4 linked regions of the Homo sapiens genome follow. The protein of the gene in region 3 purifies or fractionates together with the protein of the main gene of each other region. This does not show direct contact. Each region holds a gene or a part of one and is shown on either strand. Other genes may lie near its edges. The genes, in order: GLO1, FKBP1B, AGL and RNPEP.

The links.
Region 1: the proteins of AGL (region 3) and GLO1 fractionate together in Homo sapiens (co-fractionation; one large-scale study listed by BioGRID). This does not show direct contact.
Region 2: the proteins of AGL (region 3) and FKBP1B fractionate together in Homo sapiens (co-fractionation; one large-scale study listed by BioGRID). This does not show direct contact.
Region 4: the proteins of AGL (region 3) and RNPEP fractionate together in Homo sapiens (co-fractionation; one large-scale study listed by BioGRID). This does not show direct contact.

Annotation. Positions count from the first base shown.
Region 1 is NC_000006.12:38,689,348-38,693,405, forward strand, and holds part of GLO1 (lactoylglutathione lyase), read right to left. Parts: intron 1-4,058. UniProt on the Homo sapiens protein: Catalyzes the conversion of hemimercaptal, formed from methylglyoxal and glutathione, to S-lactoylglutathione. Involved in the regulation of TNF-induced transcriptional activity of NF-kappa-B. Required for normal osteoclastogenesis.
Region 2 is NC_000002.12:24,052,373-24,056,430, reverse strand, and holds part of FKBP1B (peptidyl-prolyl cis-trans isomerase FKBP1B), read right to left. Parts: intron 2,530-4,058; coding exon 2,482-2,529; intron 2,328-2,481; exon of another isoform or gene 2,239-2,327; intron 1,959-2,238; exon of another isoform or gene 1,815-1,958; intron 1-1,814. UniProt on the Homo sapiens protein: Has the potential to contribute to the immunosuppressive and toxic effects of FK506 and rapamycin. PPIases accelerate the folding of proteins. It catalyzes the cis-trans isomerization of proline imidic peptide bonds in oligopeptides.
Region 3 is NC_000001.11:99,874,225-99,878,282, reverse strand, and holds part of AGL (glycogen debranching enzyme), read right to left. Parts: intron 3,597-4,058; coding exon 3,473-3,596; intron 3,130-3,472; coding exon 3,027-3,129; intron 2,926-3,026; coding exon 2,828-2,925; intron 1,826-2,827; coding exon 1,686-1,825; intron 643-1,685; coding exon 455-642; intron 1-454. UniProt on the Homo sapiens protein: Multifunctional enzyme acting as 1,4-alpha-D-glucan:1,4-alpha-D-glucan 4-alpha-D-glycosyltransferase and amylo-1,6-glucosidase in glycogen degradation.
Region 4 is NC_000001.11:201,988,806-201,992,863, reverse strand, and holds part of RNPEP (aminopeptidase B), read right to left. Parts: intron 3,961-4,058; coding exon 3,820-3,960; intron 3,482-3,819; coding exon 3,333-3,481; intron 1-3,332. UniProt on the Homo sapiens protein: Exopeptidase which selectively removes arginine and/or lysine residues from the N-terminus of several peptide substrates including Arg(0)-Leu-enkephalin, Arg(0)-Met-enkephalin and Arg(-1)-Lys(0)-somatostatin-14.

The sequences.
Region 1 (4,058 bases), on a different chromosome or scaffold from region 3:
ATCTAAAAACTATCTTTTAAAATCTGCTTTGTAGTGACCCTGTTTATGTTTTGTTTCTTCAACATCTTTCTAGTACCAACATTAGTATTGGTACTTTACCAACGACTTTATCATTACTTCTGTTCACACTATACAGGCTATACTCAAATCCATATATCTTAGGCACAGCATGTATTTTTTGTTGTAGATGCCATGCCAAGTACTTGCCAAAGTTAGACAACCTTAACTATTCTATCCCATAGTCTATCATATCCTTATCTTACAATCTTTCTGGAAAACAACTGGAATATCAAGAGTCCTCAAGAATTCATATTCTTGGCCAGGTGCAGTGGCTCACGCCTGTAATCCCAGCACTTTGGGGGGCTGAGACGGGCGGATCACGAGGTCAGGAGCTCGAGAAACAGACTGATCAACATGGTGAAACCCCGTCTCTACTAAAAATACAAAAAATCAGCCAGTAGTGGTGGTGCACGAATTAATATTCTTTTCTTTTTTTTTGAGATAGAGTCTCCCTCTGTTTCCAGGCTAGAGTGCAGCAGTGAGATCTTGGCTCACTGCAACCCGCCTCCCGGGTTCAAGCGATTCTCCTGCCTCAGCCTCCCGAGTAGCTGGGACTACAGGCGCCCGCCACCCAGCCCGGCTAATTTTTGTATTTTTAGTAGAGACAGAGTTTCACCATGTTGGCCAGGATGGTCTCGATCTCTTGACCTCGTGATCCGCCTGCCTTGGCCTAAGAATTCATATTCTTTGACCAAGATGTTCTCTTTCTAAAATTCTAAGGAAATAATTACTCTGACAAAGATTTATGTACAAAGGCATCCATCACAACACTTACACAATAACTATGTGCCAGATGCTGTTCTAAGAGATTCAAAGAAACTAATACATGTAATCTTCACAACAAGCCCATGAGATACATATTATTATCATCCCCATTTTACTGCTGAGAAAGTAAGTGGCAGAGAAAAAATTCTGGCCCAAGCAATCTGATTCCAAAGTCCTTGCTTTTAAACCACTAACTGCCTCTAACAAAGGAATAGTTAGATAGTATGACACAGGCATAAAAGAATATTATGAAAAACATTTAAAATGCTGCGTCGAGGTATATTAAATGGCATGGAGATATATACAGATGGTATACTAAGTCTAATGGCATGGGAATATATAAAATGGTATATTAGCTTTTAAAAACATTATATATATATACACACACACATGCATATGAAAACAAATACCACTTAATATGCTATTGAGATTAATTATATCTTAAAATTAATGTTACAGACTTTAACTTTATTATTAAGAGAACTATGTACTGTATCTGCCTAAACACATACACATAAAGAATATTAAAATTCACTTTAAAAAGTCTATACGTGGCAAAAAAAGTAAGATATATTCAACGTTAGTGAATTTATTGATAAAATAGAGGCTTATAAATCCTTTGCTACAAATTGTTAAATGGATATAAAAACAAGAAGGGCTTATTTTTAAGAAAATGATCAAGTTATTCTATGCTCAGATAACAGTTTTATTTTTATCACCAAAATAGTCTGTTAACTCCATGTGCCTCTTGTGAACACTTGCATGATCTTGAGAAAAAGTTCCTGTTTTAAAAAGTTAAGTTCCTAAAAATTATTGCTTTATTGGTATGGTTCTAAAATATCGTTTAAAATACATGTATCTCCTGTTTTAAAAAGTAAGACTTATGCTATGCTCATGTCTTGTCTCACCTGATAGTCCTTAATTTTGTCTTTCCCTTATCATGCTTTAAATTTAGAACAATAAAAATAAGGTGTCTTTTATGCCTAAACTATCTTTGGTTTTACAGGGATGGCTACTGGGTGACAAAGATTTGCTCCTGTGCCTTATCAAAAGGTGGACAATAGAAATAATAAGGTTTTTTTCGGGGGGAGGGGAAGTGTCATTCTCCAAATTTAATTAAGAAAACTACTGTAAGAAAACTTTTTTTTTTTTTAAGATGGAGTCTCGCTCTGTCACCCAGGCTGGAGTGCAGTGGCGCAATCTTGGCTCACTGCAAGCTCCGCCTCCCGAGCTTCAAGCGATTCTCCTGCCTCAGCCTCCTGAGTAGCTGGGACTACAGGCACCAGCCACCACGCCCAGCTAATTTTTATATTTTTAGTAGAGAAAGGGTTTCACCACATTGGCCAGGCTGATCTCAAACTCCTGAACTTGTGGTCCACCCGCCTTGACCTCCCAAAGTGCTGGGATTACAGGTGTGAGCCACCGCAACCGCCAAGAAAACTTTAAAGGTACAATCAAGGATGTTTCTAGTGCATGTCCTACCTGCCTACAATACAATCCTTACAAAACTGTAAAAGTGAGGCAAGGATGTGAACCAAAGGATTAAGGCCCCTTTAAGCACCAGTAAATGGATTTTTTTTTTTTTGGTATAAGGGATGAGAATTGAGTAGAGCTTCATTTTTAACCTAAGGATGTCCAATTGCTTCAGCACCATTTGTTGAGGCTATCCTCCCTCTGGTGAACTGCTTTTTCATCTTTGTCAAAAAGCTGTTGGGCATACTAGTGTGGGTATATTTTGGGGTTCTCTATTTTGTTTCAATGTTCTATCTCTCTGCCAATACCACAGAGTAGTGATTACTGTAGCTATGTAAGTCTTAAAATCAGGTAGAAAAATTCTTCCCACTTTATTCTTTTCCAAAATGGTTTGTTATTCTAGTTTTTTTGCCTTTCAATCTAGAATAACCCTGTCTCTGTCTAAAAAAGTTTGATAAGGAGTGTGTTAAACATGTATATTGATTTGGGGAGAATTGATATCCTTACTGTGCTGAGTCTTCCAATCATGAACACAATAAATCTCTCCATTTATTTAGATCTATGACTTTTTGCATCGCCATTGCTGTTTTCAGCATATGTGTCCTGTAAATGTTTATTAGATTTATATCTAAGTATTTCATTTTATTGGGCAATTGTAAATGGTAATGTATTTTTTAATTTTTGGTGCCTGTGTGTTCTTTGCTAGTATATAGAAACGCGATTGATTTCTGTATGTTTATTTTGTACCCTGCAACCTTGCTGAACTCATTTATGAATTCTGGGAGTTTTCTGTAAATTACTTATTATTCCCTATGTAGACAATCATGTCATCTTCAAATAAGGACAGTTTGATTTCTTCCTTTCCAACCTATATGTCTCTTATTTCCTTTTCTTGCTTTACTGCACTGTCTAGAACTTTCAGCACTTTGTCAAATAAGAGTGGTAACAGCAGACATCCTTGTCTTATTACCAAAATTAGGGAGAAAGCATCACCACTGAGTGTAATATTAGCTCTAACTTTTCAAGAGAAGCTCTTTATCAAGTTAAAGAAATGCCCCCATTCCTATTTTTTTCTGAACTTAAAAAAAATAATGAATGAGTGTTGAATTTTGTCAAATGCCTTTTCTGTACCAACTGATATGATCATGTGATTCTTCTTTACCCTCTTAATATGGTGGATTATACTGACTGATTTTTGTATACTGAACCAGGCTTGCATCCTAGATATAAACCTCACTTGGTTAAGGTGTATAATTCTTTCTATATATACTGTTGAATTCTGTTTACTAACATTTTGTCAAGGGTTTTTACATTTATATTCATTGGAGATATTGGTCTGTAGTTTTCTTGTACTGTCTTCATTTGTTTTTGGTATCAGGGTAATATTAGCTTTATCAAATGAATTGGGAAGTGTTCTCCCGTCTTCAGTTTTCTGGAAGGGGTTGTGTATAATTGATGTTAATTCTTCTTTTACATTTGGCAGAATTCTCCAGTGAAATCACCTGGGTCTGGACAAATCTTCTTTGGAAGTTTGTTAATCATAAATTCAATTGCCTTAAGTTATAGGACTCATCATATTAGTTCATATTGGATGAGGAATTGGTCCAATTCAAGTTGTCAAATTTATGTATACAAAGTTGTTTTTAGTATTCCCTTATCTTTCTTATGTCAGAAAGGTCTGTAGTGTATCCCCTATTTCATTCCTGATATTGGTAGTTTGTGCTTCTTTGTTTTCATTGTCAGTCTTGCTACAGGTTTGT
Region 2 (4,058 bases), on a different chromosome or scaffold from region 3:
CGGGGTTGCAGTGAGCCAAGATCGCACCACTGCACTCCAGCCTTGGCAACAGAGTGAGACCTTGTCTCAAAAAAAAAAAACAAAAAAACCCACAATGAAATGGTACTGAACGCTCACCAGAGTAGGCCAAAACCAAAACAAAGCCTGGTGTGGTGGCTCATTCCTGTAATCCCAGCACTTTGAGAGGCCGAGGCAGGCAGATCACCTGAGGTCAGGAGTTTGAGATCAGCCTGGCCAATATGGTGAAACACCGTCTCTACTAGAAACACAAAAATTAGCCAGGCATGGTGGCGGGCGCCTGTAATCCCAGCTACTCGGGAGGCTAAGGCAGGAGAATCGCTTGAACCCAGGAGGCAGAGGTTGCAGTGAGCCAAGATCATGCCATTTCTCTCCAGCCTGGGCAACATAGACTCTGTCTCAAAAAAAGAAAAAACAAAACAAAACCAAAACCTGACAATAACAAGTGTTGGGGAGGACACAGGGTAACTGGCAGTCTCCTACACAGCTGCCTAGAGTGGAAACTGGCACAACGACTTTGGAAAGCTGTCAGACAGTACTGCTAACGCTGAGCCCAGGAGGTACCCCACTTCCAGGTATATACCCAACAGAAACATGCACATATGTCTGTACACATGTACACTAAGAGATGCCTGCAAGACTGATCAAAGTGACACTGTTTGTAATAAACAAAAACTATGAACAACCCAAATGTTCATCAACGGTAGAGAGGATACATAAATTGCAACATACTTGTACGTTAAAATACTGTAGAGGAATAAACCATTCTGGATATATCTCGCAGACATAATAGTGAGTGAAATAAGCCAAACACAAAAGAGTACCTACGCTGTGGTTCCATTAAGATGAAGTTCAAAAATAGGCAAAACCAATCCATGGAGACAAAAGTCAGAGTAATAGTTGCCAGCCAGGCACAGTGGCTCACACCTGTAATCCCAGCACTAGGAGGCCAAGGTGGAAGGATCACTTGCATACAGGCGTTCGAGACCAGCCCGGGCAACATAGTGAGACCCTCATCTCTACAAAAAATTAAAATTAGCCAGGCATGGTGGCTCATGTCTGTGGTCCCAGCTAGTCAGGACACTGAAGCAGGAGGGTCACTTGAGCCCGAGAGGTCGAGGCTGCAATGAGCTGTGATCACCACTGCACTCAGCCTGAGTCACAGAGTGAGACCCTGTCTCAAAACAACAACAACAATGACAAAAAAAAAAAAAAAAAGAAAAACAATGATAGCTACCTCTAGGGAGGTGAAATGACTGGGAGAAGGCATCAGGGGGACTTTTGGGGATGCTGGTTCTATGCTTGTATGTTCTATGCTTCTCTAGGTGGTAGTCACATAAATGTGATCACTTTGAAAAAATTCATTGACCTAGACATCTTACATTATGTTCTCTACTATATTTATATTTAACTTTAAAGTTTACCAAAAGTCCCATAGTCTCCCGCTATGTTTGATAAGACATAGTCTCTCCCAAGACAGGAGCTGCTGCCCTATGTATGTATTGTGAAAGGACTTTGCAAAAGGATGTTGTGGTTTCAGTAACTTGATAAATACTGGTCTGTCTACAACATGCAAAATTGTTAAATCAATTACACAGGTCAGAGGCCCCAGACGACCCATGGTAATTAGGCCACATCACCAGGAGATAAAACATGGTCCAGCCCACTGACATCAGCGACCAGCAACACAACTGCTGAAAACATCCACACCATCTGCCTAGAATTAACCTTGTGCTTCACACTGGCCCACAGAACTGCTAAAAATGGCCCCATCCGAGTATGTCCTAGGAATTAACCTGGGCTTGCTGTCTGCTAAGTGGCTGTCATCGAGTTTGCCACTTTAGGAAGCAGGTCACAAGGCAGGGTGCTCACCTCCCTTGGAACAAACACCTGCTCATGATCTTCCTGCCAGCAGTCCTGAAGAACTCACTCTACCTCGCCTGCAGATAAAGAGCATCCAACTGGGATCAGTCCCGCTCTGGGCTCCCTCAGTACCCAGAGAAAAGCACTGCCATCACCCCACCCCTCAAATGGCATCGGAGCCTCTGGGTGACTTGTCTGTCCTCTCCCCTCCTCTTCTTCTCTAATGATACTGCAGGATGGAGAGAAAGTCTGCGGGGAGCTCTAGGAGGGATTTCCAAATATCAGACAGACCCAGCAGGGACAGGGGCTCCACCATACCTGCAACAGAAGGAAGGGGACTGAAGGTGTTTGACTCACCTAGAAGCTGGCACCATGGATGGCCCTTGCTGGTAGAAGAGGGAAAGAGTTGGCCTTCCAAGCCTCCTTTATCATTCCCACTAGACTGGCTGGGAGGAGTAGAGGATGGCTGGTCACAGGGAGACCCTGCTGCCTTGGGCTTTAGCCCTGATCCAGAGGCAGGCACCTCTGGAGAGAAGCTCAGAGGACAGCCCTGCCTTGGGAGGGGAAGGACTGGGTGGGGGCTGAGGGGGTGAGACTTACCTGTGTAGTGCACCACACACGTTTGGCCCTTCTTGGGGAATGTCCTTCCTGCAGGGAGACATGAGGGCAGATGAAGGAGTAGGATATTGGAAAAACACCTGGGACATTAAGTATGATCCTGACCAAGAGCTCCAGCCTGCATTCCCCTCCATGCCATGGAGATGCCTGTGGCCCTAGTTCTGGCTCTGGGCCCTGTACGAGCCAGAATGAATCACGTCACCTCTCTGGCCTGGATTTACTTTACCCCCTCAATTTTCTCAATTCTGCTGTCTCCTGGGCTTTCCCACCACCCCACCCCCACTTTCTTTGATTGCCCCTTTTACTTCACATCATCCATTCCACAGACATTTACAGTTGGCCTCCTATGTGCCAGGCCTGGACCAGACTTCAGACATGCAGAGCAATGTATGAACTCATGAGGAAGGTAGGGAAACAGACACACAAATACCAGATTACAATGCAGATTATAATCCATCCATCAAAGATGAATAAACACAATAATTTACAAATATTTGCTGAGAGGCCAGGCATGGTGGCTCACATCTGTAATCTCAGCACTTTGGGAGGCTGAGGTGGGAGGATCACTTGAGCTCAGGAGTTCTAGATCACCCTGGGTAACATAGGGAGACCCCATCTCTAAAAAAAAAAAAAAAAAAAAAAAATCTTTTCAATTAGCTGGGTGTGGTGCCGCATACCTATAGTCCCAGCTACTGAAGAAGCTGAAGTGGAAGGATTGTTTGAGCCCAGGAGGTCAAGGCTGCAGTGAGCTGTGTTCATGCTACTGCACTCTACCCTGGGTGACAGAGCAAGACCCTGTCACAATAAACAAACAGACAAAACAAAACAAAACAAAACCACAAATATTTACTGAGTACCTATGGTGTGCCAAGCCTGTGCCTGATCACAGGGATACAGCAGTGAACACTACAAACAAGATCTCTATCCCTGTTCTTTTAGAGTTTACTTTTTTTTTTTAAGAGTAGGGGTCTCAGTGTGTCACCCAGGCTGGAGTGCAACAGCATGATCTCGGCTCTGTGCAGCCTTGACCTTTCCTGGGCTCAAGCAATCTTTCTTCCTCTGCCTTCTGAGTAGCTAGTACTGCAAGTGCATGCTGCCATGCCCAGCTAATTTTTTTAAAAAAAATTTGTAGAGACAGGGTCTTAACATGTTGTCCAGGTTGGCCTTGAACTCCTGAGCTCAAGAGATTCTCCCACCTCAACCTCCCAAAGTGCTGAGATTATAGGCATGAGCCACCAAACCCGCCCTGGAGTTTATATTCTAATGGACAGAGACAATACTTAAATATACAAAATGATTATGGATTATGATGAATACTCTAAAGAAAATACACACAATGATGTATTAAAGGGAGATGCAGTGGGACAGGCCATTTCAGACAGAGTGGTCCAGGATGGCCTCTTGGAGAAGGTGCCCCCTGGAGCTGGGACTTGAAGGATGAGCAAAATACTGGGAAATAGCACTTGGGAAAGGAGTAACAAGTGCACAGAATCAACACATTTGCAGTGAGCAAGGAGGCTAGGTGCTGGAAAGAAGGGAGGGAGGAGAGAGGTGGGAAG
Region 3 (4,058 bases):
ACCTCCACCTCCTGGGTTCAAGTGATTCTCCTGCCTCAGCCGCCCGAGTAGCTGGGACTATAGGCACACACCACTATAATGTGTAATAAGCTATTCACCTTCACAGTCACTTCTAAAATATATTGAAAGCAACCTAAAAATAACAAAAATTAACATTTTATGTATTCACAGTAGCCAATATGATTGCACTCCATATTATCAGAAACGTGATCAACTTCCCTAAATTAAAATTTTAAAATTAGCTAGTTAAATATTTTATAGCCCAGTATTCCATAACAACTGCAAAAGATTGTTAGAATTATGCTAATTATGCAATAGTGATAAATACTACCACCAAATCAATGCTTGTGTCCAACTAGCAAAAGGAAACATTTACCTGCATAGTTTACTTAAGGAAAGCTAGGAAGGAACACTGAATTTCTTTTCTTAATGTAGATAAATTGTTTTTCTGTACCTCAGCTACGTGAAGAGGTGTTGAGTGGCAGTTATCAAGACGTACTCCCTGGAAATAAGTTGCAGTTATTTCAGTGTATTTTTTCATGTGTGCCCAGAGATAAGGACAGTCCTCTGGTTTATTCCCATAGCGTAATTTAACACTGTCTCCCCAGCAAATAAGTTCTCTCCTTAGGTAAACTTCTGAACCTGTTCAGAAAAGAGATTGCTTTCAATGGTTCAAGAAATAAAATGAAAACAATTACTTCAAGGAAACACTGGTTTTTAAATTGCTTTGATCATTTCTGCCATAAATGATATATTGGTTAAATTATATCTAAAGTGGTATGAGATAATGTTTTAAAAAATTAATAATTATTTATTTCTCATAGCTATTCTGAAAAAACTCTAGCTTACAGTCTCTTCTAAAAATTTGTCCTCAATTTCAAAAACCCAAGTCGCATCATAAGGGAAAACAGAAATGTTAATATCATAGGCCTTTTAAAACCATAGTTCTACCAAAAACATTTAAAACTCCATCTCCACCCTCCTACTTATTTTCGGCAACAGGTTGTATTAGATCCATGGCATACAGCAGAATGGCTTGATTTCGTTTAGAATGGCTAGAAAAAAGAGGGCAGAGATACTTACACCCAAATTTATACTCTTAAAAAAAAGCATTAAGATTTCTGAATAAATTTTAATGTCACTAATATAGACTCCTAGTTTCGAAATGTTAAAAAATAAATATATCAATGGGCTCCTGCAACATTCTTCCTGGTAATGAAATAGCTATAGAAACACAAGACACTAAGAGTGAGGGGGGACCTAAAACCATTAGGTTCTGGTTTAATTGCCACTGAAATTCTTAATACCTCTGGCCAATGAGTGAAAATATCTCTTATGTCAATGTAATTGTAATAGCAGTGGTTTCAAACTTGTCTGTAAAAATGCAATAATATTTTGTCCAAATAAAAGCTTATGTAGACCCACAATATAGAAAACAGTACATAAAAGTTATTCTGTTTGAGAAGATAAAAGGTAGGAAGGCAAAGGAGAGGACAGAAGATGAACTTCTTTTTTTGTTGGCTCCATGTTTTCTTTCTCAAATTGTATGTATCTCTGGTACCTTTATGGTGAAATATTTAAAAACCAATAGACTAATGGGGAAGAAAATCAGTAAAGCAGATTTTATTTTGACCTTGCCATGAACTATTCTTTCCCCATCCACAGAGAAGTTAAAAATTACATACCCGGTTCAGCAAAGTTTCGAAGAGGATCATCTCCCATTACCCATCCATTGTGTGCCATCAGAAAACAAGCTTTATTTGGCAGATGAATCATAGATTCTTCCATGGAGAAGTCTATCTCTTCAAATGGGAAAGTAAAATACCTATGAAAATATAATTAAATATTAAATCCATACAAAGAAACTCCTTGGAGAGAATATAAATTTGCAATATTAAAACTAAACTTCTTTTCTAATGAATAGAATAAAATAAGTTTGATGCTATTTATAGGAAAAAAACTTCAATATAGGTCAAAAATCTTCATTAGGCTTTTTGAGTAAATCTAGCAGGATGTGAGAAATAGGGAGTTAACATGACAGCATATCTGGCTAACAGTTTAAACAATTTTTAAAACTTCATAAAATTATTTTAAAAAATCATTGAGGCAGCTGGGCATGGTGGCTCATGCCTGTAATCCTAGAACTTTCGGAGGCCGAGGCAGGGGGATTACCTGAGGTCAGGAGTTTGAGACCAGCCTGGCCAACATGGGGAAACCCCGTCTCTACTAAAACTACAAAAATTAGCTGGGCATGGTGGTGCACCTCTGTAGTCCTGGCTACTTGGGAGGCTGAGGCAGGAGAATCGCTTGAACCCTGGAGGCGGAGGTTGCAATGAGCTGAGATCGTGCCACTGCACTCCAGCCTGGGTGACAGAACAAGACTCCATCTCAAAGAAAAAAAATAAATACATAATTGAGGCATTGATGTTACTTTGCAAAGATATTTTTAAAAAAGACTCTAAGTAAAGATATGCAAAGGCTTTTACTGCACTCTAGTTGCCCAACCTATGCTTTATGTCACTTACAAAGTAAGGAGCCAGATGCTTGCTTAATTTGATTAATATTGAATTTATTACTAAGTATGCAGTCCTCCAGAAACATTAAATAATAACTATGAATTGGTTTATACTGATGACAGTTTCTCTAACAAAATATTTGCCTAACAAAATTAGTTAATATTAAGCCTATGTCCAAATCAAAACTTCTATTTCAATTTAAGAAATGTACTGAACTCACATGTTAAAGAAAACATTTAGGTTAATTTCAAAAGTTAAATACAATTTTCAGTTTTCAACCATCAATAAGAAAAAAAACAAAAATGCAACACCTGGTAACTAAAGGATGCTTTCTAGTGACAGGTCCTAGTTTTGGACCATGGCCAGCCAGTCGTTCATAAAACACATTTCCCAAAAGGCAATTAACTGCCTGAAAAACATTAAATTGTGTTAGATCATCACCATCCTCAAGACAACAAAAAAATAGTAGTAAGATGCAAGGAAAAGCAGCAGTTCAAAAATAAGTAAAACCTGTTCCTGATGATAGTTAATGAGTCGATGCTTCTCTGAATTTAATTCCTCCATTCTTTTATGAAACCAATTACAGCATTCTTCAATTGCTGCTGGCCCCTTGCTAGAGCAGATGGAGAAATGCAGATATAATATTTAATGGCTTTACAGATTCTACATTTAAAAACTTTCTAACAAAGGTCACAGAAACCTTAAATATATTCATCGGGATTTCAATTATGGCTGATGATGTTTTCCAATTGTAAAAATGTTTATATACACATATAGAAACATGGCCCACACACAGAAAAAGTGGGAAAATGTCATGTGCTGAAATAGTAGAATTACAGTGAATTACTTTATTTCATTTTCTATTAAGCGTTTTTAATAAGTAGTATGAAAATCATACTAGCCATAAAGGTTTGTAAGTAATATTATTATTTCACAGAAAAAAACACATTACATACTCATGTGGTATGAAAGTCGTTAGTGCAATGTTCATATCTACAGTACAGCCAAACCGTCTGTATTCAGGATCTTGAATAATCGTAAGGTGTTGGTTTGGATCAGACTTGGTTACTCGCCTATTTTCTAAAAGAAAGAAAAGACGATACCTTAAATGCAAATATCTACAAAGAGATTATAACTGTCACTATTTTCTAATTTTTGGCCTATAATTTTTTCACTGAAAATAAAACAAATATTTATTTCACAGGTATCCTCCTACCTCCTCCCCTTCTCATCCTGCTGTGTGCACGTGTGTGCACGTGCGTGCACGCGCAAACACACACGAGGGGTGTGGGGGAGAAAGAAACAGAGACAAAAATAACATAAAAGAAAGACACAAGGATTCCTATCAATTCAATCTCAGCCCCCACTTTTCTGCCTACATCAGCATTCACTTATTCTATTCTTTTTTTATTTTTTTATATATATATTTTATTATACTTTAAGTTCTAGGGTACATGTGCACAACTTGCAGGTTTGTTATACATGTATACATGTACCTTTTTTTTTTTTAAACACTTTAAGGACTTTAGTGGAACCCGTTTT
Region 4 (4,058 bases), about 100 Mb from region 3:
TGTCTATTTCAACTTTCCTTTAATTCCAACTTTTCACGAAGAATTGAGAAAGGTGTAGTGGTTATTACTGTGTAGTTTCACTATTTTCTACATCTCCCAAATACCCACTTATAGAAGTAGAGAAAAGGAATTGTATAACAAGGGACTGGGACATTATAGCAGCGGGAAGTGGGCAAGGGGCTTTGGGGTGTTGGTAAGAGGTAACCAACCACACACTTGGGCCAGGGAGGGAAGCCCAGTCAGGAGGGTCTTGACTGCCCAGGAGAAATGAGTGGCTTGCCGGAAGGGAGGCTGCCATGAGCTCAAGGAGGAGACATGGTGGAATATAGTGGGAGAGAGGCCGTCAGAGAGCTGGAAGGTTAGCAGAGTCAGGATGAATGAGGACAAGGGGCTCAAGGGCCTTAAAAGTTCAGATATGGTACAGTTCATGACAATGACGATGTCTAGGCTCTAGACTCCAGAGCATGGGTGTGAATATGGGTGGCTGACAGAGTGGAGAAGGCTCCCTGAGTAGAGGTCAAGAAACCCTGAAGGTTGGTGTTGTGGCTCATGCCTGCAATCCCAACACTTTGGGAGGCCGAGGTGGGAGGATCTCTTGAGCCCAGGAGTTCAAGATCAGCCTGGACAACATAGCAAGACCTTGCTCCTGCAGAAAATAAATAAAATTAACTGGGCATGGTGACAGAGTAGCTGTGGTCCCAGCTACTCTGGAGACTGAAGTGGGAGGACTGCTTGAGCCTGGTAGCTTGAGGTTCAATGGGCTGTTATTGTGCCACTGCATTCCAGCCTGGGCAAGAGAGCGAGGCAAGAAAAGAAAGAAAGAGGGAGGGAGGGAGGGAGGGAGAAAGGCACAAGAAACCCTGCAGCCACCCTCAACCCTGGGTGTTAGGAGAGAAAAGTCGCCAAAGATGATGTGACAGGAAACCAGACAGAAAAAGATCATGGGACGGCAGTCAGTATCTTCAAGGAATTACTTTGTGAATTGTTCTACCACCACCTTGGATGTCAAAATTACCACAGTCCTTCAGCCCAGTGGACTTCAGCTTGTTACAACTAGAAGGTTTAAGACAGTCATCCAAGATACCTCCACCAGGACACACATTTCTGTCAAAATAAATCAGGATGCTCTCAGTCAAGCTGCAATCTCACTACCTGTAGTATATTGCAAAGAGCACTGGATTTGCAATGGAAATACCTGAATTTTAATTCCAGTTTTGCCAACTAGTGGTCCTGCACAAGCCACTCACCACAGCCTTGGTTTGCTTATTTTTAAAATGTAGAAAGTATCATCCTCATGGAGTCTGTGTAAGGATTAGAAGAGATTATACATAAAAGGGCCTACTGGGATATACCCATAATTCCCCTCTGCCCAGGATTTTCCTCTTGCAGTAACAGGGACTGGGATAGGTGGCATACCTTGCCAGAAGACCCTCCGATTTAATAAACCCCCACGGCCCGGCGTGGTGGCTCATGCCTGTAATCGAGCACTTTGGGAGGCCGAGGTGGATGGATCACGAGGTCAGGAGTTCAAGACTAGCCTGGCCAACATAGTGAAACCCTGTCTCTATTAAAAATATGAAAATTAGCCAGAAATGGTGGCACACACCTGTAGTCCCAGCTACTTGGGAGGCTGAGGCAGGAGAATCACTTGAACCCAGGAGGCGGAGGTTGTGGTGAGCCAAGATCGCGCCACTGCACTCCAGCCTGGGCAACAGAGCAAGACGCCATCTCAAAAATAATAAATAAATAACCCCCCACAAGACCCTACGATGTGACCCAGGAGGCAAGAACTGTCCATTTAATCACGGAAGGAATAAGGCATTACCACCAGTTAAGTGGATTCTGTCACCTAGTTCGATATACCATGTTGTCATTTTATTACAGGCAGTATAAAAAGAAATCATTATCACTCAGTATCTTTAGAATCTATTGTTCTCTCATTTCCCATTAATAGTTCATACTCTTACAAGTAGAACCTTAGTAAGGGTATTCTTGGAAACGACGTTCCTTTACTTATCTACTTGCTTGTCTATTGCAAAGATGACATCCTTTTGGTTATTTCCCGCCCTGCCTATTAGGAAGACAGCCCTTCGTAAGAGGAGGGCACTTTGTCTTTCCAGACTGGTATTGTTTTGAATGTGTGCGCTGGGAGCAGATGCCAATGGAATCCCATTTATTATTCCAACTGATAACCAGAAACTAAGACTCATGATACCAGCAGTGCCACTGAGCCCAGTTATGAAGTCTGAGGCTCGTAACTAATGTTGTCAAGGACACCACTGCCTCTAGGAACTGGGAGCAGGGCCAGAGATAAAGAACAGCAACAGTGCCAGGAAAAGGTCACGGCTTCACCGTCCAGCCTGTGATGCTCCCACATTGGGACTAAGCTATGGTGGAGGTAATATGAGAGCCAGGAAAAACCTATACTCCTGGTCAAACCTCTTTTATCAGGAAACCTTACAAAATCCCTTTTTATCTTCACAAGATCCATGTAACTTCACGGAGGCATTGCTCTCACCGTAGGCTTAGACTCATGCATCTGCTGCAGATAGGAAGGAGAGTCCACTTCCCTCTTCGAGGGAAATGATACCAAAGTTGTTATTTCCAGGAACTACGTGCAAAAGAAAATGGGGAAGATTTGGTACAAAGATAGGAAAGTGGATATAGCTGCTAGAAGGGCATTTAGAACTTAAAGATATTAATAAAGATCCATTTCCCAGGCCGGGCATGATGGCTCATGCCTGTAATCCCAGCACTTTGGGAGGCCAAGGCGGGTGAATCACCTGAGGTCAGGAGTTCAAGAGCAGCCTGGCCAACATGGTGAAACCCCGTCTCTACGAAAAATACAAAAATTAGCCGAGCGTGGTGGGGCATGCCTGCAGTCCCAGTTACTTGGGAGGCTGGGGCAGGAGAATCGCTTGAACCCAGGAGGCAGAGGTTGCAGTGAGCCAAGATCGCACCATTGCACTCCAGTCCAGCCTGGGCAACACAGCAAGACTCCATCTCAAAAAAAAAAAAAAATCCATTTCCCAAAACTGCAGCCTAAATTCCAACATCCCTCTGTAAGGCAGCCCAGGACAGCGCTACTGCTAGCAGGGATGATGATCTCATTCCAGGCAGCAGGATTAGAACTGGAGAGAGGGAGTGAGAAAGGCAGGGAGAAAAAGAGCACTTCCTCCAGCTGTGCTCATGCTGCATGAGCTGCAGAAAGGCTCTGGACTCAGACAGAGGATCCAAGACTGCCCAAGAACCCCCCCAGCAGGTCCACTGGTCAGAGTCCTCCTCACCTCTGAGGCCAATCCAACCTTGCCTGTGGGGTCTTTGTCTCCTACCTGGGTCCAACTTCAGCCGAAACCAGATCTCCGATGGCCAAAGCTATCAGATAGGAGGGGATGGGCTGACACATCTGGAAGAAGAACTTATTTGGACCTCTCTTCTCCCAGGTGCTAGCACTCATCACAGCTGTGAAGCCATCTGGGACCTGACAACAGAGAAAGCTTAGGAGATTTTACCTGGAGAGAGTTTCCTTTTGATTAGTTTGAATAAGAGCATGACCGGCCACCTGTGTGTGATGATAATGGCCTGGAGTCTATCTTGGAGAACACAAAGGTTTCAAGAAACTAAATCTGTGCTCAACTGATGGGATTTAGAGGAAGGCTACATACAACTTCAGTAGGTGGAAGAATTTAAAAGTAAGCAATTTTTCAGAAGTACCACTGAATGGATATAATAATTTACCACTGAAACGTGACCTGATTGATAGATCTGAAATCATTTCTTCATCCCAAGGGCAGGTGCACCTAACCTTAGTCTCCTTACCTCAATAAGAGCTGAATACTTGTATTTAACAGCAGGCGTGTCGAAGCAAGGGAAGAAGGCCCGGTTTAGGACAGCCTGGCCCTGGGTGTACACGAAGGGCTTCTTCTTTCCTGCTGTCTGCTCGGGAGCCAACCAGCAAACCTAAGCGAAAAGAAGAACATTTCAGAACTGACATCTCCCACACGAGCTCAGTCTGGCCAGAGAAGTGAGCTGGCTGGAATGAGAGAATTTTAGGTAAT